4 linked regions of the Homo sapiens genome follow. Each later gene encodes a partner of the first gene's protein in a complex. Each region holds a gene or a part of one and is shown on either strand. Other genes may lie near its edges. The genes, in order: PBRM1, ARID2, SMARCD1 and SMARCB1.

What was found.
Region 2: PBRM1 (region 1) and ARID2 share a complex: the UniProt entries of both Homo sapiens proteins name them as parts of the SWI/SNF-B (PBAF) chromatin remodeling complex.
Region 3: PBRM1 (region 1) and SMARCD1 share a complex: the UniProt entries of both Homo sapiens proteins name them as parts of the SWI/SNF-B (PBAF) chromatin remodeling complex.
Region 4: PBRM1 (region 1) and SMARCB1 share a complex: the UniProt entries of both Homo sapiens proteins name them as parts of the SWI/SNF-B (PBAF) chromatin remodeling complex.

What each region holds. Positions count from the first base shown.
Region 1 is NC_000003.12:52,681,988-52,690,089, reverse strand, and holds the start of PBRM1 (protein polybromo-1), read left to right. Parts: upstream 1-4,176; 5' UTR 4,177-4,341; intron 4,342-4,490; exon of another isoform or gene 4,491-4,654; intron 4,655-5,175; exon of another isoform or gene 5,176-7,998; intron 7,999-8,102. Other genes in the region: GNL3 (guanine nucleotide-binding protein-like 3), read right to left, coding at 884-1,016, 1,898-1,981, 2,475-2,588, 2,707-2,844, 3,263-3,321, 3,985-3,997. UniProt on the Homo sapiens protein: Involved in transcriptional activation and repression of select genes by chromatin remodeling (alteration of DNA-nucleosome topology). Required for the stability of the SWI/SNF chromatin remodeling complex SWI/SNF-B (PBAF).
Region 2 is NC_000012.12:45,732,037-45,740,322, reverse strand, and holds part of ARID2 (AT-rich interactive domain-containing protein 2), read right to left. Parts: intron 1-8,286. UniProt on the Homo sapiens protein: Involved in transcriptional activation and repression of select genes by chromatin remodeling (alteration of DNA-nucleosome topology). Required for the stability of the SWI/SNF chromatin remodeling complex SWI/SNF-B (PBAF).
Region 3 is NC_000012.12:50,094,655-50,101,806, forward strand, and holds the end of SMARCD1 (SWI/SNF-related matrix-associated actin-dependent regulator of chromatin subfamily D member 1), read left to right. Parts: intron 1-2,195; coding exon 2,196-2,318; intron 2,319-4,059; coding exon 4,060-4,161; intron 4,162-4,292; coding exon 4,293-4,346; 3' UTR 4,347-6,053; downstream 6,054-7,152. UniProt on the Homo sapiens protein: Involved in transcriptional activation and repression of select genes by chromatin remodeling (alteration of DNA-nucleosome topology).
Region 4 is NC_000022.11:23,824,966-23,833,195, forward strand, and holds part of SMARCB1 (SWI/SNF-related matrix-associated actin-dependent regulator of chromatin subfamily B member 1), read left to right. Parts: intron 1-259; coding exon 260-450; intron 451-8,230.

The sequences.
Region 1 (8,102 bases):
GCACTTCTCTATTTCAATTCCCCTTGTATTGCTCACTTGAAAACTTCAGGACAGACTCAACGTCTGGATTACAACCCTACTAACCCTAGAGCTATGTTTCCAGAATTTACCTTTAGCTAGCAGCCAATTGTTTCTTCATTTTTGAGACGAAGTGTTGTTGCCCAGGCTGGAGTGCAGTGGCACAGTATCGGCTCACTGCAACCTCCGCCTCCCGGGTTCAAGCAATTCTCCTGCCTCAGCCTTCCGAGTAGCTGGGACTACAAGTGCCCATCATCATGCCCGGCTAATATTTGTATTTTAGTAGAGATGGGGTTTCGCCGTGTTGGCCAGGCTTTTCTCGAACTCCTGGCCTCAAGTGATGTGCCCACTTCAGCCTCCCAAGCAGCCAATTGTTTCTTAACCCCAACAACAATTTTAGATCTCATTCCCATTTTCTGCTTTGTAATTCTCTGTTCTGGGTTTTCTTTTTCCTGCTGCTCAAACTCAGATGCATAATTATGCATTTCATTTAAATATTTTGTCACATACGTTCCAATTTATTTCACTCTTGAACTAATACCCGACATTGTGTAGGTGTGGGGAATTTGTCACACTGTCATCACTTCCTAGATGAAATATACTACACAATAAGCTGGGTATAGCAGCTTACACTCTTTATTTAAAAGATGGTAAATACTGAATGGCAAAAGAATAGTAGAAACCAGTTGAGTCAGTTGTAAAAGTCACCTGGCTCCCCACTGCCTAGCACTGTCTCTGGCAAAGTGCACGTACTCTGGCTTTGCTGAGATCAGAGTTGGATCTAATCAGTCTTCAGTGACTATCAGACTGTTTCCTCGTACCTCACCCATGTACACAGAAGACAAAGGGTACCCTCTTTACTCACCTGATTTATTTAATATAAGTACCAGCTTTTTCTGTCCACTCTGGACAATGGCCTCTTCTACCTGAGGACATCTGCAACCAAGAGGATCTCTGGCATCCAACACCTCTAGGACAACATCGGAGGCTTCAATCACCTATCAAGGAAAAAATGACCAGAACTACATTATCAAGGAGAAAATGATCAGAACTACATCCCTTGTTCTGGTAATACCTTCCACAAGAGAGTACTGGCATTATCCATTTAGCAACAGGGTGAGCTCAGAGTTGGATCTCATGTCTTCACTTTGGTATGAAGAATGTTGACCCTCATCATTTCTCACACAGGAAAGTAAAACATAGGCTTGCTCAGCAGTCTCTGATCAAGATGGATTTCAAAAATGCAAATATCCCTGTCTGAATCCTCCCATAGTGAATTATATAGTTTGATAGGTCCTTCTGGCCTTGCCAAAAGCTGCTGAGGGGCAGTCAGGTTCTATCCATGGGGGAGTGAGCTTGGGAAAATGGATGTTGGGGATGGGAGTGCTGGAGAGCAACTACACCAAGTTGTCCTCCTTCACTTAGGTTTCAACAGAGTACTTTAGAGACCTTTAGCCTGACACTGCTTACTCCAATGTACCTTTCTCAATCTCAACACTATGTCAACGTTTTTTTTTAATGTTGTAAATCATGCTTACAGGCAGAACCAGTTTTGTGCAAATATTTAGAACCAAAGAAACTATTTCCGTCAGGTAAACATAGCAGGAAAGGCATTAAACAGCATAAGCTAGAGTCGAGTCACGAAATGATTTGTTGGTGAAAAGGTGGGAGGAGGGAGAGGATCAGGAAAGATAACTAATGTCGTACTAGGCTTAATACCTGGGTGATGAAATAATCTGTACAGCAAACCCCTATGACGCAAGTTTACCCATATAACAAACCTGCACATGCACCCTTCATCTTAAAAGGTTAAAAAAAAAATGACTTGAGTCTTTTAAACCTCATTACTACTGTCAGACACTGACCTAGGCTAAGATACCTTTTTAAGTTCTTGGCAGTACAGCTTCTTTGAATTCTGTTTGCCCGACTTGGCTTTGTTCTCAGTTTTGCAAAGCCCAAACTCCTAGAGGATAAAGGGGGAAATAACACAAAATTAGAAGTAGAGCAACTGTAACCTCTAACTCCATTTTCCACAGCTGAGTAGCAGCCCTTGCAGTTGTTAAATAGGTAAGATGGAGTCTGAACTCAGTTGTCTTCCTCCCAAGAAGCTCAGCAGCCTGTGGATGTGCTTTTATTTCTGCATCAGAACTCATCTCTCAGCCAGGCACAACAGCCCACACCTGTAATACCAGAAACTTCGGGAGGCTGAGTTGGGTGGATCACTTGAGACCAGCCTTGGCAATATAGTGAAAGCCCGTGTCTGCTAAAAAAAATTAGCCAGGCGTGATGGTGTGCTTCTGTAGTCCCAGCTACTTGGAGACTGAGGTGGTAAGACTGCTTGAGCCTGGGTGGTCCAGGTTGCAGTGAGTTGTGATTGTGCCACTGCACTCAGGCCCAAGCAAAAAAACCAAAATCAAAACCCCTGATCTCTCATTCATAAAGAGACCTAATCATACCTTTTCCATAGGTTCCACATTTGATGGCTTAATATCAGGATTAGTTTCAAGTTTTCTTTTCTTTTCTAGTTCCTTCTGCCTGTCAAGTTTCTGCTGCTGTTTTAGTTCTTCAAGCTGTCAGAGCCATAAGGGAAATAGGTGAACCAGTGACTAGTGTTGTTACCTTACTCTGAAAAATATCACACATAACACACTACACCACTCAATGAAAATTCTGGCTAACATAACTTACCCTCTGTTTCCTTAGCTCAGCTTCCCTAAGAAGAGCCTCCTTAAAGGGAGCACTGTTTGGAACTCCTGGGTCTTTCCTAGGCTTCTTGTGACCCCGCTTTTTAGCCTCCTTTCTTAATTTTCGATGATGTTCTCGAACCTATTAAAATAAAGAGATTTTGTCTGCTTACAAAAATATCTTTATACTTAAGCAGAATTCAAGTGAGAAACCAATCTGGCTGCAATTTAGTTATGCCTATAAAATGTCCTAGGAAAATGGAGCTTTAATTGGAATCTTACAAAGTAATGCATATGTAAGTATAAAACAGCAAGAAATTGTAACTAGAAGGCTCTCTATGCAGAGATTAACATGCTGAACAAATTTAGAGACTTATCACCAAATCACTGCACTTTCTCACAGCTGCACTCCTGATGCCTAAGAGCTTGTGCCCATGGTCAGTCTATCCAATGCCATTTCCCAAAACCAAATCACATTAACCCAGACTTTCCCGCAAAGGAACAGGGCAAAATCAGTTTAGCAATGTGTTTGGTACAGCTCTCTCAAGCACTACACTTACCTTTTTTTGGATTTTATACCGCTTATGGCAGGTCATGCGTTTACTTGCTTTCTTTAACTCTACAAAGAAACACATCACAAATCTGTTAACCCAAATGATTAGTTCTGGGTTAACGCACTATGGAGTTATATCCTTTTCTTGTGTTATTGGCTACCAAACCTAACGTTAAGTCTAATGCGAAATGCCTAATGCAAACATACGTGCTACTTTCAAATCCCAGAGAATTAAATTCAGTAGATCCAGAATGGAGTCAAAATTCCCTGCACTTACCCTCACAATATTAGAATGGGATCATACACAACAGCGTATGAGACACAAAACGACAACCACTTCGTGTCAAACAGCACGAATCATAAGGCAGGAGAGGAACACTGAGTCTGGGAGGCGATTCTCAGCTCTCACCTGGGCCAGTCTGCACGTGGCCACGGAAAGAAAATATTGGGCCTCAAACCTGGCTCAGACGCTGCTTCCTTACGAAAATCTAGCCTAGTCTTCCCCACCCTCTGCCCGGCTTCGTTCCGCAGAATGAGCCCGCGCGGTTAACATGATCGCCGTAGGGACTTCCAACTCTCGGTTCTACCAGGAAATAGGGCCAAGGCCTACGCGTAGGCTCCCACCCCCATACCAGCAGAGACAAAGCCGTAGCCGTAGAAGAGCGTCGTGGTGGCTGCAGCAACTTCCAGACGTGGGTCCCTCCACGCCCGCCTCCCGACCCCACTTACTAGGCCTTTTCATATTGGCTGTAGAAGGAAGCACAAACACATCAACCTGCCTCCGCTGGCGCCACGTGTGAACTGAAGCCACTGACGAGCGTCACGCACTTACGCTGCCGCCGTAAAGTGCGTCACCGCCTCTCTGCGTGCGCGGGCACGCAGTGTCGCGCGGAGCAGGGATCGCTTGGCGGCCGCGGGACTGGTTTTGCGGCGGCACCGGGAGGGGTAAGGGAGGTGAGGGCGGCGGGTGCCGAAGCGACGGCAGCGGCCGCGGCCGGAGGAGCAATAGCAGCAGCCGTGGCGGCCACGGGGCGGGGCGCGGCGGTCGGTGACCGCGGCCGGGGCTGCAGGCGGCGGAGCGGCTGGGTAAGGCCGGGCCCAGGGCGGGTGGGGCCGCTCCCCCTTGGTCAGCTGCCGGGCCTTTGTGTGGGCCCGGGCGGGCGGGAGCCGCGGCGGAAGCCCCGCCCCGGCCGTGGGGACGCGCGGGTCGGGCCGGGCGCGCGGGGTTGGGCGGGGCGCGGCGGCTGGCCTCCGGATGGGCCCAGTAGCCTTGTCGCACCTGCCGGCAGGGACAAAGGCGCACTACGGGTCGGAAACTCCCCGCGCTCCTCTTTCCCGCTCGTCGCGGGGCAGCTTCAAAGCTGTCAACGTTTCCCTCAGTCCCCAATACCAGTGACAGGTCGGGAAAGTCCTTCATTTCCTCCGTTGCTCAGGGCCTCTTTTTTTTGTTGTGGTTTCTTGACGGTTCGACACAAACTCTTAGTGATTTTCTTTCCGTATTTTTTCCGGGTATTTTAATCAATGGGACTTGTATTTATAGTAGAGGCCAGATATTTCAGCTTCTCAACACCACAAAGAATCCGGGATTTTGGGAACTGTGTATATTTCTTGGTTTGGGGAAGCACAGTTTTGTTATTATAATAAGTTTTAATTTAAAGGGGAAGAAAGAGTTGCAAAAATATAGAAAAAGCCCTGAAAAATAAGTACACGGTATAGTGGATATAGAAATTCTTACAATAATTATAGAAGCGTATGTTGGGGTGAATTGTTTTAATTAACTTACTTTCCAACACAGGATTCTTGACAAATAATTTTAGGTATTATTTTTTTCTCCATTTGGCTATGTGCTTTTCCCCAAAAAGTGCAAATTGGACTCATGCACATAAAAGAGTAGCATAATTTTTGCTTTATTACTTACAGGTCGCCCATATTTGATTTTGAGCTCCAAAATGGAAGATTGGAAAATATGTTTTGAAGAGGTGTTTCAAATTAAAACAATAAAGAGTTTATGTGTGGATGAATGGAAGGGCCTTGACCGCTTTCTTTGGCTTTGGGAATGTACAAAATACCTCAAATGTTAATATCCTACCAAAATTCCCAAGATAAGTAAATTGTGGTGTATCTATATGATAGATTACTATCAAGTCATCAAACATCATGAGGAAGAATGTTGACTTGGAAGAACCTTCACTAAAACACAGGCTGTAGAATAATATATGTGGTTTGTTAACATTTTGGTAAAAAATAATAGGTAACTAAGGCATAAATACCAAAAACCGAATGACAACGTTAAGAGTGGTTTTTTTCTTGGAAGTAGGTTTATAGGTGTTTTTTTTCCTTTGAGTCCTGTTTTCCAAGATTTTGTTTTAAACATGTATTGTATTGCTAAATATTACTAGAAATATAGGAGAGGGCTAAAGTTCATAAACGGTCGAAATACACTGTTTGTCTATAGTAAGTCGATATTCTCCCAGTTGCACATTATTAAGTATTCTTAACTGTCCACTATAAATTATTGATTGTTAGACTTTTGAACTTGTAACTGTAATCAAGGCCATTTTAAAACTTGGCATTGAACTCTGGAATCTGTCTTTCCTCTTCATGGAAAGACAAAATTGCTGAAGGGATGCTTACAGGCATTTTTTTTTTTTTTTTTTTTTTTTTTTTGAGACAAGGTCTGACTTTGTTGCCCAGGCTGGAGTTCAGTAAAGTGATCATGGCTCACTGAAGCCTTGTGCTCCTAGGCTCAAGCAGTCCTCTCACCTCAGCATCCCAAGTAGCTGGGATTACTGATGTGCAGCACCACACCCAGCTAATTTTAATTTTTGTAGAGAAAAGATCAATCTATGTTATCCAGTCTGGTCTTGAACTCTCTGCCTCAAGCGGTCATCCTGCCTCAGCCTCTCCAAGTGCTGGGACTACAGATATGAGCCCCTGTGCCTGGCTGAGGACTTTTAAACTATACAAATAAACTTTTTTTTTTGAAGGTCTCAAGTGCACTTTTTTTTTGTTTTTTTTGGAGACAGTCTTACTCTGTCCCCCAGCCTGGAGTGCAGTGGCGCAATCCCAGCTCACTGCAATCTCTGCCTCTCTGGTTCAAGCAATTCTCGTGCCTCACCCTCTCGAGTGCCTGGGATTACAGGTGCATGCCACCACCTTGCCTAGATAATTTTTTGTATTTTTGATAGAGACGGGGTTTCACCGTGTTGGCCAGGCTGGTCTTGAACTCCTGACCTCAGGTGATCTGCCCACCTCAGCCTCCTAAATTGCTGGGATTACAGGCATGAGCCACTGTGCCTGGCCCTAAGTGCACTTTTAATACATTTATTAAAAGATAAACTGAGCACATAACCTATACCAAATACTATCCTGTAAGACAGGTCTACAAAAATGAATATGCTGTTCCTGTGCCTGGGGAACATGCAGAAGTGATTTCACTTTATGTTGTTTTTTTTTTTTTCTTGAGACGGTCTCGCTCTGTCACCCAGACTGGAGTGCAGTGGTATGATCTCGGCTTGCTGCAACCTCTGCCTCCTGGGTTCAAGCAATTCTCATGCTTCAGCCTCCCAAGTAACTGGGTTTACAGGCATGCACTGCCTCAGCCAGCTAATTTTTTTTTTTATTATTTTTTTGAGACAGAGTCTTGCTCTGACGTCCAGGGTGGAGTGCAGTGGTGCCATCTCGGCTCACTGCAACCTCCGCCTCCCGGGTTCAAGCGATTCTCCTGCCTCAGTCTCCCAAGTAGCTGGGATTACAGGTGCGTGCCACCAAGCCCAGCCAATTTTTTTTGTATTTTTAGTGGAGACGGGGTTTCACCGTGTTAGCCAGGATGGTCTTGATCTCCTGACCTCAGGTGATCCATCCGCCTTAGCCTCCCAAAGCGCTGGGATTACAGACATGAGCCACCGCACCCAGCTAAATTTTTGTATTTTTCTTTAGTAGAGACAGGGTTTCACCACGTTGGCCAGTCTGGTCTCGAACTCCAAGTGATGCACTGGCCTCGGCCTTCCAAAGTGCTGGGATTACAGGCATGACCCACCACTCCCGGCATTACGTTCTTATTTTAGAGATGAAACAGATCTGAGAGGTTACATCAACTAATCAGACAACATCAAGCTGATAATCAGAGGTGGAAGACTTAGGACTCCTATTCTGGTCTTAGGAGCAAAGGTCCTGTTGTTTCTCCCACCTTATAACATTGCCCTTCTTGTCAGACTTTCAAAATACATTTTAAAATGTGTCCCATGGATAAGAAAATACTTGAAAATTATCCTTAAGTTGAAACTTTTTCTTATCTTACCAAAGTAAATTAATGATTCAAGGATATTGGGATATTGTGTCATCCGAACGACATACACATGCTGATAATGTATTTTTTTGTCATTTGATTTTCAGTGGATTATTTATAAAAGTAATTTTGAACTCCTGCCAAAATGGTTGGCCCTTTTTTTTTTTTTTTTAACCTTGTCAAATTTTTATATGGTGTCTCCAATGCAGATAGGACTTTTGGAAATAAATGTTCTTTCTCTGAATTTTTTTTTTGTGGGGGAGGGTGTTTTCCAGACCTTTTGCTCACATGAGCCATTCTTGGTTTGTTCCAGCTTGCCAACACTTGGTGTCACATGTGAGCCTCCCACATGTATTCACTCTCCATTCCAGCTCTGTGATTGAACTCTGCTCTTATTGACTAGGGGGCAGTTGGGCAGGCATGCCTCATTCCTGGAATTGACAGTCATTCCTAATGTGAGTAAAGGGGAACCTCAATGAGACATCTTTAAACATATGAAAGCATTTGGTTTTAAAATGGAAGAACTGTCAGGTACTGTTAGTGCCTGAGCCTTTGCAGC
Region 2 (8,286 bases), on another chromosome or scaffold:
TAGATAGCAAAAGAAATTTAACAATTTTGAAAAGGAAAAACATGGCAAAAAAAGAAGAAAATAATGGATTCACCATTTCTCTCTCAACTGGACTATATCAAAAATCACATATATTTTTACTACTAGATTGAATTACTACATTGCAATATGAGGCTACCTAAAAAGACAACTCAGAAATTCAAAAGTTTGACTCTTTAATGGTGTAAACTACAAATTATACCAAACCACTTAAGAACTCTTGATAGACTACCTATTATTTGCAAGCACACTGGGAGGTACAAGTTACTCTAAGCCACTAACTACTGTTTATGAAGTTCTATGTGGTCTGATCTGAGCTCAAGCGTATTGCAAATTCACTTAATCTATGAACCATTATGGAAAGTGTGATCAACCTGAGCCTTACTACTGAAAAAGTTAAATTCATCCCATTTTTAAAATATTACAAATTAGGTATTTTCTGGACAGGGCCCTAGCTATGGTCTCTTCCTTGACCTATTGTAATAGAAGAATGTTCCCACTGATCTCATGTATGTTTATATTAACATTTTATTTATTTAAAATTAATCGCTGGGCTAGCATAGAGACAGAATAAAATTTCACCCAAAAACACTTCACCATGAAAGATACGTATTATTTAATAAAGATCATCTTTGTGCACACAGCAATTGACTACTGGCCACTATATATAAATACTTATCAAGTATGACAGTAAGAACTCAGAAAGACCAGAATTATGAAACCTGGCCATATTTTACAATAAGATGTTTATCCAAACAATAGATTACACAACTTTATTTGAATTCTTCATAAAAAGTAACTTTCTGCACTCCAGCCTGGGCGACAGAGCCAGACGCTGTCTCAAAAAAAAAAAAAAAAAAAAAAAAGTAACTTTATATTTTATCCCAATTATATGGTAGTTTTAAAAATTATTTACTGATACAAATAAAAGCCAAGCACACCTGGAACATGGAATATACCTGCATAAGATGAATAGCAACTATGGATAATGTAGGATTATCTATAAGACAATTAAGACAATGCTCTGGCCGGGCGCAGTGGCTCACGCCTGTAATCTCAGCACTTTGGGAGGCCAAAGCAGGTGAATCACCTGAGGTCAGGAGTTTGAGACCACCCTGGCCAACATGGTGAAACCCCATTTCTACTAAAAAAGCAAAAAAACAAAATAATTAGCTGGGCATGGTGGCGGGCACCTATCATCCCAGCTACTTGGGAGGCTGAGGCAGGAGAATCACTTGAACCCAAGAGGTGGAGGCTGCAGTGAGCCAAGATCACACCACTGCACTCTAGCCTGGGTAACAAGAGCGAAACTGTCTCAAAAAGAAAAAAAAAGACAACACTCTGTAAAATGTACAGCAGGTCTATCAGCAGGGAAGGGAATGGGAAGGTGAAGCAGGGAAAGTAGGGTCTGAAAATATGTAAAATATCCTTTCCTGACTAGCAACTGTGGCTGACACTTAAGGCTGGGAGTTGGATATAACCTAAAGCCTTAAAAAAAAAAAAAAAAAAAAAAAAAAAAAAAAAAGTAGCCCATATGCCCCAGGAAGAAAAAAGTTTGGGTGGCATAAAGAATTTTTTCCCTTGCTTTTATACATAAAAAAAGAAAGAATATTTTTCCTAGTTGTTATTTTTTCTAAGATTAAATAACACAATTACTTCTCAAATTTGAAATGATAAAAATAAAATCTCCGGCCAGCCGGGTGCAGTGGCTCATGCCTGTAATCCCAACACTTTGGGAGGTCAAGATGGGTGGATCACCTGAGATCAGGAGTTTGTAGACCAGCTTGGCCAACTGAAACCCCATCTCTACTAAAATACAAAAATTAGCCGGGTATGGTGGCACACGCCTGTAATTCCAGCTACCTGGGAGACTGAGGCAGGAGAATCACTGGAACCCAGGAGGTGAAGGTTGCAGTGAGCCAAGATCATGCCACTGCACTCCAGCCTGAGTGACAGAGAGCAACTCCGTCTCAAAAATAAATAAAAATAAATAAATAAAATCTCCCATATGAAAATGTTTTGAAAAACAAAGCTGGTGGACATTAAACAAAACAGGTTATTGTTAGTATTATTACTTTCACAGGAATTTATACATGTTAACTCTACTACGAAATACCAGGACAGACCAACAAAATTTTCACAAACAAGCATCCAGTAAATTCAGTAAAACAAATGGTACCCCATTTGGAAAGAATATAGTAAAGTTCTATGAGAAAAAAAAACCATACATATATGTAAAGAAAGTTCTCCAATTAGGAATAAGTGAGGAACACTTATTTTTAATTAATTTTTTTAATCCAAATTACATAAACACACTTAGGATAAGTTAGAATTTGGTAGTTCATTTACTCTTTTTTTCCCTTAACTAAAGTGGAGCCCTTGTTACCTTCTCTAGAGTCCAGAGACAAAGTATAAGTGTGTCCAAGCTGTGGTCAGAGATGACAGGTGCAGCTTGAGCAGGTGCCCCTAGACCAGATGTCACCTGGAGGTTTTGTTCTGGATGTAACCCTGACCAATATGTTCATGCCATGTTAAACTAGTCATCTCAGCAACTAAATTGGTTTCATTACAATACTTAGATCAACTGTTCTCAAACTTCAGTGTACTTAAGAATCACCTGGAGCACTTTTTGGAAATACATATTAATCAAATTATTAATACCTAAAACCACTGTTCAATCTTAGCATCACTAAAAGGGGACAACTAAACATTATATGCCTCATGATATGATGAAAAGCACAGCAGTACCTATCAAGTATGCCTAAAATATTAAATCTGAATATTATTAACCTTTAGATCTATCACTTTTCAGCAAATATGTATGAGGGATAGAGGAACAAGTTAATTGACACCAAAAGAAAGCAATCAAAGCCAGAATTTAAGACAGTCTAAAGAACAAATTGACCCCTTTACTCCAAATCAATGGTATAATGGGGAAAAAAAGGGCGGGGGGAGAGGGAAGGCAGCAGCCAAAACATCAAAACCAGCACATTCTCCCTGGGGCTCCACCAAAAATTTCTATGGCAGTAAGATGGGAGTGAAGCCCTGTAAACGCTGACTTAGATATTCATGGAATATGGGTCTATCATTTTTGGTCAACAATTCAGAATGTGATAGCTATTCCTGGACATCACTAAGAGACTTCCATTCCAGCAATAGTTTATTGCAATGTATTTAGTCAAATGAATTATCAATTCACAACATAATGAATACACAGAAAGTATCCAAGCACAAGTGAAATTTATGTTTTAAAACAGAAAAAAGTTTGTTATTTCTTTTATCACATTATAGTTTAAACAGTAGAAAATGTATAGTTGTGCATCTCTTAGGTTGGTGCACAAGTAATTGCAGTTTTGGCGATGGTGTTACACTATTTACTGTGGGGTGAAACACTGGTGAAACACTATTTACTATGGGGAAGGGAAGAGAAGTAGTAATGTTTCCCCAAAATGTCTAGAGATCCACAATACACATTAGCAAAATAAAGTCTCTAAGAAGTCCTGCAATAAAGTAACCCAAGTTTAGCCTTTTGCTCAAGTTCATTTCGTCTTCTTTTCATGGAAATATATTAACATTTCTGGAAAACTAGTGTTTCTAGAGTACAAACTCTAGTTGGCCCTGAATACCAAAGACTGTGGTGATCAAAGCAGCAAAAGGAGAATCCCCTCAACCCCATCCGTCTGCTCCATTTATCCTCTATGTCCTTCCCAATTCAGACAAAATCCATTTTTATCATTAAACTTTAGTAGGTCTGGAAAACACCCAATAAGCACCTTCACAATATAATTAAAACTTTTAAATACTTTACCTAAAAATATATATTAAGTACCTGCTCACTGACTAATGAAATGCAGTTAAAACTGTGTTTTTCCTTCCTTTCCAACTTCTAATTTCATTCAGTTTGAGAATATAAAATATCTAGTAGCAATATACTTTTTTTTTTTTTTTCAGACGGAGTCTCGCTCTGTCACCCAGGCTGGAGTGCAGTGGCACGATCTCGGCTCACTGCAAGCTCCGCCTCCCGAGTTCAAGTGATTCTCCTGCCTCAGCCTCCCGAGTAGCTGGGACTACAGGTGCATGCCACCACGCCTAGCTAATTTTTTGTATTTTTAGTAGAGACAGGGTTTCACTGTGTTAGCCAGACTGGTCTTGGTCTCCTGACCTTGTGATTCGCCTGCCTTGGCCTCCCAAAGTGTTGGGATTACAGGGCGTGAGCCACCACGCCCGGCCACAATATACTTGTCTATCAAAGACGTTATAGATTTCACACGATCAACTATGAAAATACTGAATCCACAACAAAGCAGAGATAGGATTATGAAAGAGTGCTTCTATTCAGGGACATTTTTAGTTAACAGCTAAGGTAGAAAATTTAACTGCAAAAAAAAAGCATATAAACATTTTTGGGAATTATAATGTTCTCATTTTGTATCCTCAGGAAAATTTGTAACCTCAGTGAAAACTATCTGTCTTAGAAAGAACTCAATTTATTTCTACTTTGGGCAATTTAAGCTCTAAAAACATGGATTCTAAGACATAACACTAACCTAGCTGAGCTTTGATAAGTCTTTCAACTTTCTCCACTTTCTGCTCTTCCTTTCAACAAGTCTGCATGTCCTTTAAAAACGTAACAGAATATCAGAAAATATCAAAATCAGGTTTTTTGTTTTTTAAAATGGATACACTGCCAGGCTCAGTGGCTCACTTTTGTATCCGAGCACTTTGGAAGGCTGAGGCACAGTGGCTCACTTTTGTATCCCAGCACTTTGGAAGGCTGAGGCGGGAGGATACCTTGAAGCCAGGCATTCAAGACAAGCATGGGCAACAAAGCAAGACCCCTGTCTACACACACACACACACACACACACACACACACACACACACACGATACAGTTTATAAAGTTAAATTTGAAATACATGCATGAATAACTTATTGATATATTTGTCTTCCAATCTCCATATACTTTTATTTTCCTTCCTTGAATAAGAAGGGCAATCAGTTTATTCAGTTCCGTTTAGCAATTTACAAACTCAGTGCTTATATACCTAAGGCTTTCTCTTAAAAGAATTGATCTATATGGTGGACACTAACTAGAGAACACATGAGTGTATTCATTCAATTTAACTAACAAATGTAAACTCCCTCAAATGGTGTAATTTAAGAAAGAGCTTTACCCACCAAGAAAAAAAAAATAGAATAAATTCACAATGCGATTGAAAATGTACTATGGTAAACATAACTCTACAATTAAGTTTCTGACTATTCTAAAGGTAGGTACATATAAATAGAAATGAATATTTCAGTGCCAGAAAACTAGTAACATATAGTTTTGTACAATAAATTTTTAATGTCCAAGATATTTCACCCCCTTTCCAAAAAAATCAAGTTTTATAAAGGAAACATCAAGTTAACCTTGACTATAGCTGTAATATTGGCATCAGTAAGCAAAAACAAAATTTTAAAATATTTGAAATATTTACCTAAATCTTCATACCAAAACTTCAAATTCTTAACCCAGATAAGACCAGCAAACTGTCCCCCAATTTCAACAACAAAACAGAACAAAAAATTAAAATCCACCAAGTAAATATGGAACACATTAGGCAAAGAGATACTTGGGCATAAATTTAACCATAAGTAATTTCCAAATATTATTGAACACGTCATGAACACAACATTTTGGTCCAATTAATGAAATGTTCCCTAAGCCATTTAATTTTTTTTTTTTTTGCACTTTAATATCTCCATCTACAAAATGTGGGAAACTATACCTTATCCTTTCATACTATAGGAATATCCTAATAATAAACATTGGTGGAACACATTGAGATGTACATGCCAAGAAAAGGAACTACATGAAAATAAAGTGCATAAACATCACAGATGATTAGTATCCAATTTTTAATTTATTTATTTTATTTTATTTTATTTTTTTGAGAAAGAGTCTCACTCTGTCGGCCAGACTAGAGTGCAGTAGCACGATCTCCGCTCACTGCAACCTCCGACTCCCGGGCTCAAGCAGTTCTCCTGCATCAGCCTCCCAAGTAGCTGGGATTACAGGCATGAGCCACCATGCCAGGCTAATTTTTCTATTTTTGGTAGACACGGGGTTTCACCATGTTGGCCAGGCTGGTCTCAAACTCCTGACCTCAGGTAATCCGTCTGCCTCGGCCTCCCAAAGTGCTGAGATTACAGGCGTGAGCCACCGCACCTGGCCTCCAATTTTTAAATAGACTGCTTTTACACATTATCTGTAAGCACTTTACTTTTTTTTAATTTTTAATTTTTGTGGGTACACAGTACGTGTATATATTTCTGGAGTAGGTGAGAAACTTTGATACAGGCAGGCACTTATATTTGTAAAAATTAAATGCCAATGTTAAAATAATCAATTGCATTTTCAATTTTAGACTCTAAGAAATTTTTGTAGACAAGCTATAACTGAATAAATGTATATTTGAGAAAATTAAGTTAATGTCTGGCAGACCATTAATACTCAAGTCTATATTTAATGACTGTCAATATTTGTATCAAAAATAACAAAACACTATTAAAATATACATGGCCAGCATACTAGCTTGCTCTTCCTAATTTAAATTATCTGTAATATTATGAAGATATATCATAAAACACTAGGCTAACAGCCATCCATCCAATTAATAGCAAACTTACAGGGGAATGTGAGCAAATATTAAACTTGTAAAGGAGGAATAACACATATAATGACAGTCTTACAATAGGTCAAATGAAAAAGCAGTTCATATTAAAAAATTATTCCACTTGTAATTTAAAAAACACACTGCATTATCTGCTCATCAGTAATGATGATATTCAATCTGACGTAGCAAAGAGGTAACTTATCAAGTCACTCGATTACTATTTCTTACTATGAAGAGCCAATCTTATGGGTAGGTAATAGAATTGCTGTTACTTGGCATCTTGTCTGCCAATTAAGATTTTTCAGAGGAAGGTGTAAAAGCTAGCATCATATATATCCTCTTACTGTGCAATATTAGACCACCAGGAAAAAATTCTTTCAAGGTTGGTAGTACCTAAGTTTTGACCAGCATATTTCTTTTGTATTTCTTTACAAGCCATGCAAATCTTCACATGGTTTTATTTTCCAAAACAAATGCTTCAACTTTTTTCCTAGTAGCCTAGCTACAACCCTGCAAAAACAAACCTAGAGAGTGACATATGGAGGAAAAACAAGTTTAACTAAGGACATAGTTCAAAAAGCAGCTTCTAATAAGAGCAAAAAGCCCAATTTGATCTGAAGACCATGTAAATACTTACAATGTTGAAACTATATAGTTAAAAACAGTACCTATAATTAATGATATCCTCCCAAGATAAAAATGACAACTGGAAAAACAATATTTATAATTAACTTTTGTTAAAAAAAATTGGAAGCCTAGATATTAATTTGATTATGCTAAAACTATTAGTATGAATGTAAACTCTTCAGAAAAATATACATCTCATGAATCATGTATATTCTATAGTACTTTCTGGTTATAAAACTTAAGTCAATCAATCTAACAAATATGAAGCAAAACTTCAAAAATATGTATTTCAAACAGTCCAAAATTCAAATGCTTTAAACTGATAAAAACATAAAACCAGAATATGTATTAACATGTTCCTCTCAATATCATAAATAGAAATGAGCAAATGAATGTCACGATGAATATAAAACTCTCTTGTTTCTCACCCCACTACTAACTCAACGGTTTTGGAGGTTAATTTTGCTTTTTGATTTAGCCCTTTAATTTAAAATGTACTCTGACACAAATGCCATCACACACACACAATAGATGACAACCATATTTAATATTTTCTAGACTTCCTGTGTAACTCAATAACTACTCCACAAAGTTCTGCGAACTCCAGCTTCAAGCCTGAAGTCAATCTAAGATAGCCAATAGAAAGTACACCTGTGCGATTACTGCATTTCCTATTTCAGAATGCTGAACGTAATACACAATAACTGAGTGCATCTGAAGCAATAATAAATGCAAAACTCAAATTATGCAGAAGCCACCTTACAAAAAAAGGCCTGTACTATCACTATTAAAAAGCAATAAATACAAAGAATATCATTTTAGTTTTTAATAACACCAACTAACTTAGGATCCTCTAAGATAAGCACTTTAAAAATAAAACACAGCATCATGATAAATTACAGTATGAAAGTATTCCTAGAAGAAAAACTAGAGGCAAAAAAAAAAACGCTAAATCACAAAATATATCATCTAGACTGTATC
Region 3 (7,152 bases), on another chromosome or scaffold:
TCAAAATACGGTGACACCCAGTATATGTCAGGTACTGTGCTTGGTGCTGGTTTGAGCCAGACTCAAATGAATTCTGATTGTGGGGATACTCTCAACAGCACTGAGCCTCGGTTTCTGATTTGTGGAATAGAGACCATAGTACCTTTTTTTTCCTTTTTTCTTTTCAGGAGTCTCGCTCTCTCGCCCAGGCTGGAGTGCAGTGGTGCAATCCCGCCTCACGGCAACCTCCACTTCCTGGGTTCAAGCGATTCTCCTGCCTCAGCCTCCCAAGTAGCTGGGATTACAGTCACCCACCATCACACCCGGCTGATTTTTGTATTTTTAGTAGAGACGAGGTTTCACCATGTTGGCCAGGCTGGTCTCCAACTCCTGACCTCAAGTGATCTGCCCGCCTCAGCCTCCCAAAGTACTGGGATTACAGGCGTGAGCCACCACGCCCAGCCCATAGTACCTATTTTAATCAGGTTGCTATGACGATTAAATGAGGGAGTGTGTGTAAAGACTTGAGACTGTATCTGGCACATAAAAACAACAAATGGTAACTTCTGCTACTATTATTGTTATCTGGGTTGTTATTACTAGACGCAGTCCTTGCAAATAAAGCCAAAAGTGCTTTGGGAACATGAAGGAGAAAGGGAGGCTTTGCTGGAAGAGTTGATGCCCCAACTAAATCTTTTCTTTTTTTTTTTTGAGATGGAGTCTTGCTCTGCCGCTCAGGCTGGAGTGCAATGGCATGATCTTGGCTCACTACGACCTCCGCCTCCTGGGTTCAAGCAATTCTCCTGTCTCAGCCTCCTGAGTAGCTGGGACTACAGGCACCTGCCACTACGCCCGGCTAATTTTTGTATTTTTAGTAGAGACGGAGTTTCACCATATTGGTCAGGCTGGTCTTGAACTCCTGACCTCAGGTGATCCACCCGCTTCGGCCTCCCAAAGTGCTGGGATCACAGGCGTGAGCCACCGCGCCCGGCCCCAACTAAATCTTGAAGGACAAAGTGGGTGTTAATGAAAGGGCAAAAAGGATAGTAGTGCTGGGGGCATAGGAGGCAGAAGACGTTCCAGAAAGAGGGAATAGGGCATGTAAAGGTCCAGAGAAGAGAGAGAGAGCCTGGTGTCTTAAAGAAGTACGAGCCATTTAGTATGCTAGATGCAGCATAGAGTGCCGAGGACGGGATGTTTTGGGAAGGAAAGCTAGATAGGGAGCCAGATGCCTAATTATGAAGAACCTTTGATTCAGGGAAAACTGGTTTATGTTTCATCCCGAAGACTGTGTAAGACAGCTGGTTGAGAGATCATTACCAGTGGAGGGACTGATGCTATTTGTATATAGAATGATCACTTGCAGGAAGGTGGATGGAGAATAATTTGTCAAGAGGGCAGGGCTGGAGGCAGGAAGCCCAGTTAGGAGGCTGGTGCAGTAATCCATGTGAGACGTGTTGAGGCCCTAAATTTACAGTCCCGACAGTGAGGGTGGAGATAAGTAGATAGATTTGAGAGGTGTCAAGGTGGAATTGAAGGAATTTGGCCACTGTTTGGATTATTAGAGTGAGGGATGAATGAGAAGGAAATGTTATGATGCCTCCCAGGTCTCTAGCTTGGGTGGACAGTAGTATTTACTATGACTGGGAAGAGGGGAGGAGGAGGAGCAGGTATTGGAGAAACGGTAGTGAGTTTAATGTCAAGTTTAAGCAGTTGGATTGGTTGGAGTATAGAAGATAGACTCTGGGCTGCAGACTGGGGACTCATTACCCTGTCACTGGTAATGGAAGATATACAAGTCAAAGAAATTGCCGGGAGGAGTATGCAGAATGAGAAGAGAGTTGAGAACAAAACCCAGAGATGAGAGCTTATGAGACAGCCCCATATGCCAGTCCTTTTCTTCCTGAGAACACTTTTGGACCCATTTGTGCTGTGGAGTAAGTATTCATCATGTAGCTTTGCCCATAGTGGGCAATGTGGAGACCAAAAGGAAAGCTTTCCTCACATGGGGTATACAGAGAGACAGAAACAAGGGCAAATTACTTGCTGAAAGAATGCCAAGGGTCGGAGCAGTTGGAGCTCTATATGATGGTGCCAGCTGTGGGCAGCATGGTGACTAGGTTGGAAGTGGCATGTGGAGTTGTCAGGCACCACCTGCCATTTAACTTCTCATTTTTCTAGTTTGAAAATGGTATGAGCTTCGTTCTTCCTTTCAGATCCATGAGACAATAGAAACCATCAACCAGCTGAAGACTCAGCGGGAGTTCATGCTGAGCTTTGCCAGAGACCCTCAGGGTTTCATCAATGACTGGCTTCAGTCCCAGTGCAGGGACCTCAAGGTAAAGAACCTAGGAGAGGTCTGAAGGGACTTAGGTCAGTGAGGTGCACAGCTGCTTTATTCATGTAGCAGCTGGTAGGAGACCCAGAGGAAGGAGTGAGGGGCCAGATTTTTCTTTAGCATGTTCCAGGGTCCATTTTGCAATTAAGCAGGGAAATGGGGGCAGAGCCATCAAGTGTTGATTTAGTGCTTACTTTGTCTGTCACTGTGCTTCATCTTGTCAGGGATACAGAGTGGAAGACCTGATCTCTGCTTTCAAAGCAGCCTACATTCTGTCTGAAGAAACTAGGCTAGTATAGCCGGGCATGGTGGCTCACACCTGTAATCCCAGCACTTTGGGAGGCCGAGGCCGACGGATCGCTTGAGGTCAGGAGTTTGAGACCAGCCTGGCCAACATGGCGAAACCCCGTCTCCACTAAAAATACAAAAACTTAGCTGGGCGTGGTGGTGCGCGCCTGTAATCCCAGCTACTTGGGAGGCTAAGGCAGGAGAATTGCTTGAACCCAGGAAGCAGAGGTTGCAGTGAGCCAAGATCGTGCCGCTGCACTCCAGCCTGGGTGACAGAGCGAAACTCTGTCTCAAAAAAAAGAAACTAGGCTAGTATGATACAAAGTAGTAAACCACATAAGACATTATCAGGCCAGGTGCGGTGGCTCACGCCTGTAATCCCAGCACTTTGGGAGGCTGAGGAGGGCAGATCACCTGAGGTCAGGAGTTTGAGACTAGCCTGGCCAACATGGTGAAACCCCATCTCTACTAAAATAAAAAAATCAGCCAGGCGTGGTGGCGGGTGCCTGTAATCCCAGCTACCCAGGAGGCTGAGGCAGGAGAATCGCTTGAACCTGGGAGGTAGAGGCTGCAGTGAGCCGAGATTGCGCCACTGCACTCCCAGCCTGGCTGACAGAGTGAGACTCCATCTCAAAAAAAAAAAAAAAAAAAAAGACATTATTAGACTGACCAGGACCAATAAGATGATTCAGATAAGGGAGATCAGTGAGACTAGAATCTCTGGGGAAGGCTTCATGGAAAATTTGGGATTTGAAGACGTTCCCAGAAAGGGGAGCACAGTAAGCTCAGACAAGAAGATAGGAATGGGCACAGAGTATGAACTCATCCGTTGTCACCCCTCCTGTGCTGACTGTGACGAGTTAGAGAGGCTGAGCAGAGGAGCAAGGAAAAAGGGATGCCAGGAAAGATCCCTGAACAAGGCAACGACTTGTTGATTGCAGAGGTGACTGGGTGTTGTATCAGTTTGCTGAGGCTGCTGTAGCAAACTACCACAAACTGGGCAGTTTCAAACAACAGGCTTGTCTCACAGTTGTGGAGGCTGGAAGTCCAAAATCAGTGTGGGCAGCACTGCTTCCTTCCGCGAGCTGGGAGGGAGACTCTGTTCTGTGCATCTCTCAGCTTCTGGTACCTCAGGCATTCCTTGGCTTGTAGGTGGTGGTCTCTGTGTGACTTCACGTTGTCTTCCTTCTGTATGTGTCTGTCTCCATGTCTAAATTTCCCCTCTTTATAAGGGAACCTACCGGTCATATTAGGGGGTACTCTAATGACCTCATCTTAACTTGAGCATCTGTAGAGACCCTATTTCCAAATAAGGTCACATTCACAGGTACTAGGGGTTGGTTAGACTTCAACATTTTGGGGAAGGATACAATTTACCCAATAATGGGTGTGAAGGAAGGAAACAAGCCTTTTCTCCTCTCTCTTCCTCCACCCTGCATCTCCATTTCCCTCAGACAATGACTGATGTGGTGGGTAACCCAGAGGAGGAGCGCCGAGCTGAGTTCTACTTCCAGCCCTGGGCTCAGGAGGCTGTGTGCCGATACTTCTACTCCAAGGTAAGTACATGGGGTGCACGGGGGAAATTGACAAAAGGCACGGGGTTTTCACCCCTGATGGGGGTCAGTGGTGTTAGATACCAACTTCTGGTTTGTCTCATCTTCCACTCCCTTCACTATTTTCTCCTTAGGTGCAGCAGAGACGACAAGAATTAGAGCAAGCCCTGGGAATCCGGAATACATAGGGCCTCTCCCACAGCCCTGATTCGACTGCACCAATTCTTGATTTGGGCCCTGTGCTGCCTGCCTCATAGTATCTGCCTTGGTCTTGCTTGGGGCGTTCCAGGGGATGCTGTTGGTTCAAGGACAACACCAGAATGAAGAGGGTCTCACAAGACACCTGTTATCCTCTTCTTTCACCCTATCTCTTCCCACCCCCAGCTTCCCTTTGCCCCACAAAGTTCCCATGTGCCTGTACCCTCCCCTGGTCTACATAGGACCTCTAGATAGTGTTAGAGAGAGAACATGTAGTGGTAATGAGTGCTTGGAATGGATTGGGCCTCAGGCCAGGTGGTCTTCAAGGGGACCAGCTAACTGATCCTGCCCTTCAGAGACCCAGGAGTTGGGAGCTTTCGCTCCTTCTCCAAGACTCAGGCCTGTGGGCACTCTATAAGCTAGTTGATCTTGGCTCTCCTGATAACAGAATCCAATTTCCTTCCTTCCCTCCACAGGTTTGGAACAAACTCTCCCTTCACTTGTTGCCCTGTAGCACTACAGAAACCCTGGTTCTTGGGCTCCACTGAGCCCCAGGTCAGTCCCCAGCCCTCTGGGTTGGCCTGCTGTCAGTGCTTCTCTCACTCCTTAGTTGGGGTCCACATCAGTATTGGAGTTTTGTTCTTTATTGCTCCCTCCCAGACACTCCCTGTGGCTGCCCTTTGTGATTCCCTCAGATCTGCCCTAATCCCGGGCATTTGGGTGGGGGAATCTTGCCTTTCCCTTTCAGAGCCCCAGGGATCTCATCTGGGGAACTGTCATTGCCAGCAGAGGCTGTTCCTTCCTGCTGTTTGGAGATGTGACTCATTCATTCACTCACTCCACCCTGCCTCTGCATCCCTTAATGGAGAAACGGGCCTAAAACCAAACGGGTAAAAAGCCCTGGGCCATCCCTGTCTTCCTGTCCCTTGTCTGCCCAGTTGACACCTACTGGTGACTTCTAGGGCACTGAGGAGTGAAAGCGCCTAGGGCTGGAGAATAGCGCTGAGTTGGGTTTGTGACTCTTCCCTCTCCCTGCCTCACAGGATTGTGACTCCCCAGCCCCTGCCCTCAAAGCTTCAGACCCCTCAGGTAGCAGCAGGACCTTGTGATCTTGGCCCCTTGGATCTGAGATGGTTTTTGCATCTTTCCAGGAGAGCCTCACATTCTTCTTCCAGGTTGTATCACCCCCGAGTTAGCATATCCCAGGCTCGCAGACTCAACACAGCAAGGGTGGGAGACAGCTGGGCACAAAGGGGGAATTCCGTTCAGCATGGGCTCTAAACCCACAGAACTGACAAAGCCCCTGCTTCCCCACCCCCTCCTCAGGCTCCTGCGAGCACACCCCCACCCCCAAATCCCTCCCTGTTCTACACTGGGGACAGCAGAATTTTCTCCCCGTCTTCCCCTTCCTGCCATTTTCCCTCCCTTGAAAGGTTGACACTGGACAACCTTGGGGCAGCTGAGCCCTGGCCGCCTCCTGGCTGGAACCATGAGAAGGAAGCTCAGTACTTCCCACAGTGTCCCTGTTGATAACTGTTTTTATTAACTGAATTGTTTTTTTCATGGACCAAACTTTTTTTTGTACTGTCCCCTTATTGATGTTACCCAGTTTTAATAAAAGAATCTTCTGAAGGATGGGTCCTCCTACCTACTGTGAGAGAGCTCTTCCCTGAGCTCTTCTTCCTTCAATACCATTAGCCACGCTTGTAGTGTTTGTTCATTTTATTTGACAAGTATTTATTGAGCACCTGCTATGTGCTAGTTGTGATGCTAGACACGGGAGATAAAGTGGAAAATGAGATTTCTACTTTTGTGGACCTCAGGGTCTTACCTTAAGAGATTGCTGTCTGCCCCAGTGGTCCAAGCAGCCTAGTTGCTGGTTGGGATTATTGGGCTTCACCACTGGATCTTAAGAGCCCTTTCCCGACTTGCTAGGCAGGTACTAACAGGTTGGTGGCAGTCATTTTCCCCCTTGTCCATCTGAGCTCCCCAGAGCACTTGTTGGCTGGAGTGAGCCATAGATGCCCGTGATCCCTTAGGTTTGACGAACCTGAGCCGCCTTTGGAGGAGTTTCACTTCTTCCCCAGGGCTTCTGTTTAGATGTGGGCAGGATCTGGACGACCAAAGACATTTTTGCTTTTTGTGCCTGCTACTCTTTTTTTTTTTTTTTTTTTAGACGGAGTCTCACTGTTGCCCAGGCTGGAGTGCAGTAGCGCGATCTTGGCTCACTGCAAGCTCTGCCTCCTGGGTTCACGCCATTCTCCTGCCTCAGCCTCCCGAGTAGCTGGGACTACAGGCGCCTGCCACCATGCCCGGCTAATTTTTTGTATTTTTTAGTAGAGACAGGGTTTCACCGTGTTAGCCAGGATGGTCTCGATCTCCTGACCTCGTGATCCGCCCGCCTCGGTCTCCCAAAGTGCTGGGATTACAGGTGTGAACCACCGTGCCCAGCCTGTGCCTGCTACTCTAAGGTTCCGCTTTCATGGTTCAAATAAGAGTTCAGTTTTTGTTTGCCTGTTTTGAGATGGAGTTGTGTTCTTGTTCCCCAGGCTGGAGTGCAATGGCGCGTTCTCGGCTTACTGCAACCTCCGCCTCCCAGGTTCAAGTGATTTTCCTGCCTCAGCCTCCTGAGTAGCTGGTTCTTAAGAGCACCATGGAAGTTCTGTGTTGTCATCCTCATACTGTAGACAACTAGCCCCTCCTTGGCAGAGTTTGGAAGACAGCTCAGGAGGGATTCCCATTAGCAATCACTTGAAACTCGCCTGCAGTTCTGCCTGCTTCCCACTTGGAGGCTCA
Region 4 (8,230 bases), on another chromosome or scaffold:
CTCAGGTGCCCCCGGGGTCACTTCAGGGCCTCCCGAGGGTGACTGTGCTGGGCCCTGAGCCAGAGCCCCTCATGGCAGACAGGGTTGTGGGGTCAGCCTTGTTTTGGGGATGGGGAACTGGAAGGACAAGGACCACCTGCAGTTCTCAGCTGGTGGACCCTGGTGGGCAGGGCCCACCCCAGGCCTGGCAGGGCCCCGCTCCTCGCGGCCTCCCTGGGCTGCAAAAGCTCTAACTTGTGTCCTTTGGTTGTTGCCTCAGCTGAACATCCATGTGGGAAACATTTCCCTGGTGGACCAGTTTGAGTGGGACATGTCAGAGAAGGAGAACTCACCAGAGAAGTTTGCCCTGAAGCTGTGCTCGGAGCTGGGGTTGGGCGGGGAGTTTGTCACCACCATCGCATACAGCATCCGGGGACAGCTGAGCTGGCATCAGAAGACCTACGCCTTCAGGTAGGATCATGCATGAGTCTCTCCCTCCCTCATCTCCCTGCAAAACTGTTTTGAGAAAGACTTCTCTGTGTGAGCGGTGATACCTTTGAGGCTTTCTCACGCTTCGCAGCACAATCTGGCTGGGGTCTGTGTGTTTGCTCCGTCCTCCTCCTGCCCTATGTATCTCTCCAGGGCTCCGCTGTGCCAGGTAGGGTTAGAAGCACCTAACACAATAGCTGGCAAAGACTTGGAGTTCTGTCAGGGTGAACCTCAAGTCCTTGCCTCCACGGAGCCCTGGCCTGCCCCCACCATCCACCATTCAGTTGTCCTGCCCCACACCCTCTCTCTCTGCTCTTGCCCAGACTGTTATTTTGGTCAGGGTGACCCCTGCCCAGGGTTCTTCATCTGTTGAACTTGAATTATGTCTTAAACACAAAGGCCCGCCCAGCTTTTGAGAGTCAGGGGTCCCTAGCAGCTCCTTCTTACTCTAGTATCTCTGCCTTTGGTCAGTCAGAGAGCATTTGATGAGTACCATGCTGGGCTGGACCCCATCCTGGCTGCCCTGGAAGATAGAGACAGGTCACCTTGATCCCTGCCTGTAGCATTTGGGCTGGCTGAGATGGTGGAAGTGTGAACAGAATATTCCAGTCCAGTGTCCTCTGTGGTAGGGATGGGGATGGACCCGGGAGAGGCCCTCCTGTTCCTGGCAGGAGGTGGGACTCAGAGTTAAAAGTGAGGTCAAGGCCCAGTGCGATGGCTCACACCTGCAGTCCTAGCACTTCGCGGAGCTGAGGTGGATCACCAGAACCCAGTAGTTCAAGACCAGCCTGGGAAAAACATGGTGAGACCCCACCTCTACAAAAAAAAAAAAATAGAAAAAATGAGCCGGGCATGTTGGTACATGCCTGTAGTTTCAGCTACTCAGGAAGCTGAGGTGGGAGGATCGCCTGAGCTCAAGAGGTGGAGGCTGCAGTGAGCCAAGATCACACCACTGCACTCCAGCCTGGGTGACAGAGCGAGACCCTGTCTCCAAAAAAAAAAAAAAAAATAGCGAGGTTGAACTCTCCCGGCTCAGCAGGACTCTAGGACTGGGAAGCCCCGTGGTTCCTCACCCTGTCCTCTGTGTTGGGATGGGGTGGGGGTGCAGCAAGCATCCCTACATCAAAACAGGATGTTCAGATTTAGTCTGCTCATCAGACTATCATCATCCACATCTGCAGTCATCACTCAGGGATGACAGCTTAAAATGCTACATGAGGAGCAAATAGGAAGGTCTGTTTTGCAAAGCCATGACAATTAATGGAGCTCGTTAGGTTTGTGTCTAACTTGTTTTCCCAGACATCCCAAGAGACAGCTTTCTATGACTTCCCATAAATCTGAGCAAGGAAGAAGGAATGAGAGCCACCCACGGGGCTCAAGGGCCCGGGCCTGGGAAACAGCTGAGTCCCTGCCTGAGCGCCATGGTGCTGAGATCCTGTGACCTGCCCCCCAGCAGCCCTGCCAGTCACATGGTTCTGCTTCACAGACAGGGCAGCCCAGAGAGGAGGCTGGGGGGCTGGTGTCTGATGCCTCCCTGTTCCCTCGGGGTGTTGCCTGGGAGTGCAGCTGTAGCGTGCATTCACCCTGCACAGAGCCAAGCCCTATGGCCGGAGAGCCAGTCAAGGGTGGCCTCCCTCCACCAGAGTTGACTCTGAGGCCCCGGGAGGCAGTCATGTTGCGCGCATCAACACTGAGCACCTCCTCCCGCAGAGGCTGATCCAGTCAGAACCCTCGTCTTGGGCTCACAGGTGCAGGTGGTAGGCTGGCTGCCCCCAGCATCCAGCCCCTACGGTGTTGACCTTCACCTAGTCCTGCAGCCGCTGCCAGTGCCCACAGTCCAGGGTCAGGAACTGAAGTCCCCGGGGCCTCTTGACAGGTCCTTGCAACATCCCTTCTTTCAGCCACCATGGCACCATCCCTCCTGCTCTGACCCGAAGGTGACCTGAGCCTAAATTCCTTTCCAAGTTCCGGGCCCTCTGCAGTTTGCAGAGTGGCTCCAGAGCAGACCCCCTGGGGAGTCCCTGGTGGTGGCAGGTCAGGATTTAGAGGCAGAGGCGGGCCCCTTCTTTATCTCATCGACCACTTAGTGCATTCCAGTTGCAGGGCCTGGGGGCATCACAGACCCCCTGCCCCCTGCTCTCTCTTATGCTGAGAATGCAGGTTTCAAATCTTTGGGGTTAAAGGCAAAGGCCATCCCGCTGGGACCAAGGTGAGCACACGTCCCTATCACAGCAGCCAGATGGAGAGGCGGCCTGCCTGGGGAACTGGGAAGTGTCCTGAGTGGGCTTTTAGCATCAGGAGGGCTGCGTGTGTCTTCCCAGTCCCCACACTGGAAGACAGCTGCAAGGATAGGACAGGGCCTTAGGGTTGGGCTGTCATCCCTGACTCCAACTCGCGTTCCCCCCACTGTACCACCCCACCCCATGGGATCTTAGGAGGGACTTCGTTTAACTCTGTCCCCAGGGAGACCAGTGTCAGTCCTGCCTGGCCCTGCCTGGGGAAAGGAGGCTGGGCCACTGAGTCCCCAGGTCCAGGGGCCAGTCAGCCCACAGAGAGCTAGACCAGGAGTCCTGGCCTGGTCTCTGCCACACAGAAAGCTTGGCAACTGCTGTGTCACATGACTTTTTGTTTTGTTTTGAGATGGGGTCTCGCTCTGTCGCCCAGGCTGGAGTGCAGTGGCGTGATCTCGGCTCACTGCAAGCTCTGCCTCCTGGGTTCACGCCATTCTCCTGCCTCAGGCTCCTGAGTAGATGGGACTACAGGTGCCCGCCACCACGCCCAGCTAATTTTTGTGTTTTTAGTAGAGACGGGGTTTCACCGTATTAGCTAGGATGGTCTGGATCTCCTGACCTTGTGATCCACCCATCTCGGCCTCCCAAAGTGCTGGGATTACAGGCGTGAGCCACCGCGCTCGGCCACATGACTTCTTAAGAAGGGTTTTCAGGCTAGGCATGGTGGCTCACGCCTGTAATCCCAGCACTTTGGGAGGCCGAGGTGGGCGGATCACCTGAGGTCAGGAGTTAGAGACAGGCCAACATGGCAAAACCCCGTCTCTACTAGAAGTAGAAAAATTAGCCAGGTGTGGTGGTGGGCACCCGTAATCCCAGCTACTCGGGAGGCTGAGGCAGGAGAATTGCTTGAACCCGTGAGGCGGAGATTGCAGTGAGCTGAGATTGCACCATTGTGCTCCAGCCCGACAGAGCTAGACTCCATCTCAAAAAAAAGGGTTTTCAGCTCTGGACCTAGGTCACTCCATAATGGAAGCACTCGCTGATTCCCCAAGAGCCAGTCCCTCCATCTCTCCCAGCCAGAGCTCAGTGCCTGACTTCCATACCCTCCTCGGCAGTGGGGACATTGATTGGATCCATGGTACAGTGGGGCAAGCTGCTGGCCACAGGACATGTGTGTGCAAGGCCACTATGCCCACACCTCAGGGGAACCAGGGCAGAGAACAGCCTGTTCCCTTTGGCAGTGGGACAGACAGGAGACAAGCATGAAGGGGAAACAGGGGCATGTGACAAACTGGTCAGAAGCCCTAGGCTCCTAGAGGACAGACTGGGACCAGAGTGACACAGGCGTCCCAGAGCCAGTGGAGTGGGATGAAGGGCCAGCGAAAGGAGGGAGACAGGGCTCAAGGGGAAGGAGGCTGGGCTAGGCAGAGCCTCTGAGGAGAGCTGATCCTGCAAAGTTACTGGCACCTCCCCTGGGCCAGCCCTGTGTTCCTGGCCAGGGACGGGAGGAGACAGTGCCCTGTCTGGCAGAGGAAACAGATTCATGTGCATGACTATCAGTGTGCCATGGCCACAGAAAGCACCGGAGGCTGTGGGCATGAGGAAGGGCAGTTGGGGGCATAGAACCTGGGGTGAGGATGGCCAGGGCAGGTGCTGATGGGGGACTGCAGCAGGAAGGACCGAGAGGAGACCAGGGACAGGCAGGTGCTTGAGAAGGAAGGTGGGCCCTGTGGATCAGGCAGGGTATCTGCCCCAGGGGGCTCTGCACACCAGCAGTCCTACACGTACAGGGTGGGGATGAAAAGAGACTAAGGGTCAGGGAGCTTGGTAGCTGGGCCTGCATGAGGGACAGAGAGGCAGTGTCCCTCTGATGGCACAGCATCAGGAATTAGGCTGGGGTATGTCAGGTACACGTTGGGCTGGTTGAGCGTAAGCCTCAGGTTCCTTCCGAAGCTCTGCCCGCCAGCCCTGGCCTGATGTCAGGTTTTGTTTGTTTTTTTAACAGCTTTATTGTGATATAATTCATAAACCATACAATTCACACATTTAGAGTATATAGTGCAGCGGTTTTTGATATATGCAGAGAGCTGTGTAACTATCACCACTGTCAATTTTAGGACTTTTTCATCACCCCACTGCAGGCAGTCCCGTTCCTCCCCGCTGTCTCTCAGCCCTAGGTGTCCACTCATCCACTTTCTATCTGTAGATTTGCCTATTCCGGGTACTTCATAGAAATGGAACCATCTAATATGTGGTCTTTTATGACTGGCTTGTTAGCATAATGTTTTCAAGGATTATCCATGTTGTAGCATCTTTTATCAGGACTTCATTCTTTTTTATGATTGAATATTATCTCATTGCATGGATATACCACATTTTATTCATTCATCAGCAGATTGACTTTTGGGTTGTTTCCATTTTTCAGCTATTGTGAGTACTGCTGCTGAGAACATTTGTGTATGAGTTTTTGTGTGAACATCTGTTTTCAATTTTCTTGGATATATACCCAGGAGTAGAATTGCTGGGTCACGTGACAACTCAGTGGTTAGCATTTTGAAGAATTTCTAGACTGTTTTCCAAAGTGGCTGCACCATTTTGCATTCCCACCAGAAGCGTGCGATTCCCGTTTCTCTGGATCCTGCTGGCATTTGCTGTTCTCTTTTTGATCGTAGCCGTCTGAGGAGGTGTGAAGTAATTGTGGTTTTGATTTGCATTTTTCTAATGACTGATGATATTGAGCATCTTTGCATGTATTTCTGGCTGTTTGTGTATCTTCTTTGGAGAAAGTGCTTTGCTAGTTTCTTAATTGGGTTTTATTTTATTGTTGAGTTGTAATTGTTCTTTATATATTCTACATAGAAGTCCCTCATCAGATAGATACATGATTTGAAGATATTTTCTCTCATTTGGAGGATTGCCTTTTCACTTTCTTGATAGTGTTCTTTGAAGCACAAAAGTTTTCATTTTGATGTAGTCCAATTTATCTTTTTTTTTTTTTTTTTTTTTTTTTTTTTTTTTGAGACAGTCTCGCTGTGTCACCAGGCTGGAGTGTAGTGCTGTGATCTTGGCTCACTGCATCCTCCGCCTCCTGAGTTCAAGTGATTCTCCTACCTCAGCCTCCCAAGTAGCTGGGACTACAGGCACCTGCCACCACACCCAGCTAATTTTTTGTTTTTAGTAGAGACGGGGTTTCACCATGTTGGCCAGGATGGTCTCCATCTCTTGACCTCATAATCCGCCCGCCTCGGCCTCCCAAAGTGCTGGGATTACAGGTGTGAGCCACTGCACCAGGCCTGTAATTTATATATTGTTTTAGTTTGTTGCTAGTGCTTTTGGTTTCATATCTAAGAATCCATTGTCAATCCAGAGTCATGTTGCCCCAGCACCATGTTGAAAACTGCTCTTCCTCCATTGAGTGGACTTGGCACCCTTCTAAAAATCATTTGAGGCTCCTGGCGGCCTCGGAGGTGTGAATTGCAAACATAAGGGTGACACCAAGTTTTGGCATCTCCCCTTCCTGGTCGAGTGGCTGTGGACAGGTCATTTTCCCTTGAAGTCTGTATTTTGTCATTTGTAACTTGGGGATAATACTTGTGTGTTGCATCACATGAGGTCATGAAAGTGAGATCACATTGAAAGTAAACCTCAAGATACTCGACCGGCATCAGTCCTGGCTCCCTCTGTCCCTCAGACGTGAGCATCCCCTGCCTGGGTATCTTTGTCCCCACCTGGACACTTTGGGTGGTAGGAAGGTCTGGGGTCCCTGGCGGCTTCGAAGCCCGTGAACCAGAATTCCCTGGAAGGAATGGGGAGCAGGGTGGCTCCCAGGGTCCCCAGCACTCTTTGGAACTCAGGACAGCATCTCCATGCCCACATGCCCCCAAAACCCAAGGCAGGCTAGTGCTGGCTCTAGGCCCGTTCTTACATGGTTGGTGCGAGCATTTCTTACTTTAGAACAAACCCACTGGAGTGGAATATTCCCAGCATCAAGGGGAGGTAAACAAAGGACCCTCTGGGACCCACTCGCCAGCTCTTGTTTAAGAGGAAAACATGTTTTGCTCCCCTCGTTGTGGGCTTGGTACCTTTCACGTCTGCCCTCCAAGGAAGGCTGCTGGGAGCCCTCACGGTGAGGAATGATGTTTGGGGTCTGAGGCTAGGGTGGTCCCTAGACTGCTAAACCACCCGGTGCTGGCCAGGGACCAGCTGTCAGGAGCTGCTGAGGATGGGTCAGCCCCAGAGGGTGGGGGTGCCGACATTGCCTCTGGCCCTGCCTCTGCGTCACCAGTACGAGCTTGAGCTTCTGCGACTCATGAGCATGGACCTGGTGGGCTGAGCTTCAGCTGTGAGGGGTCAGGCCTGCTGCAGGGAGAGCCAGCTGCAGCCAGTGCCCTGCGCTGTGCCCACAGTCCCTGAGACCCCAGGCTGAGGAGAGCAGCACTGAGCCCAACCTGGAACGGGCTCACGGCTACTGGAGCTGGGTGTGTGCTCACTGGTGTGGATGTGCAGAGCCGGGACTCGCTCTGCAAGCAGGCTGGTCCCACAACCTTGAGCCACCCACTACAGGGAGGCTGTGAGAAGGTCCCTGGCCCCTAGGAAGCTCCCTCAGTGGAGATGTTTTGGCTGCTTTAATAACAGTCATCCTTCCAAAGCCCTTCACAGCAATAAATGTTTCCATATTCCAGATGAGGTTTGCAGGGACCTGTCCTCTCTATCAGTGTCCACCTGGCGCCTCCCCCGAGTCCGGCCTGCCCTTGCTTCTCCCAGAGCTCATGGTGTTTTTCAGGGCCGCAGGCTGGCAGGGTGTCCTTCTCCCAGGGGACTGAGCCTAGGGAGAGCCAAGTGGAGGTGCCCAAGTGGAGGAGAAAGGAAAGGACCACAGAGAGGGGAGGGGAAGTGGGAGAGTCATGGTTAGGACCTCAGGCTGAGGCCTTCTGCCAAGCCAGGGGTCTGGTGTCACTCAACTGGGAAACACTGTCAGCACCCAAAGCTGCTCTCAGAGGTGGGGGTGACGGGACCACTGCATGTGGGAGGCACACGGGCCCTGTGGCATCCACAGCTGTGGTCTCCTTAGTGTCCTGTCACAGACTTGCAAATCAAAGCCCAGAGAGGCGGCAGCCAGCCACCCTCCCACCTCCCCAGCACTCCTGTGCCCACCCCATGCCTGTTTAGCCTCTGCCCTTGCTGCCCCCTTCCTCTGCTGTGTCCTTTTGGCAAGAGGAAGGTACCTCGGGGCAGATTTGGGTGGTCCTTGTGAGACCCAGGGCAGAGTGTGGTCCGGGGATACGGCTTCTGTCCAGCTCCCTGCCAGACAGCTGTCTGATCCTAAGCACAGACCAGCCTCTCGGGGGTTTTGTTCGGCCAGGAGGTGGGCTGAGGGGCAAGTGTGTGGAACATGCAGGAACAGGCTGTGCAGTGGCCCTCAGTAGTGGGGGGCTGGGGACTTCTGGGAGACTCCTTTGCTCCCATTCGCCATCCATCCCCTTTCCCTGATCAGTGGGCCCTGGCTCTGGACACTGAGTGGAGCAGACAGT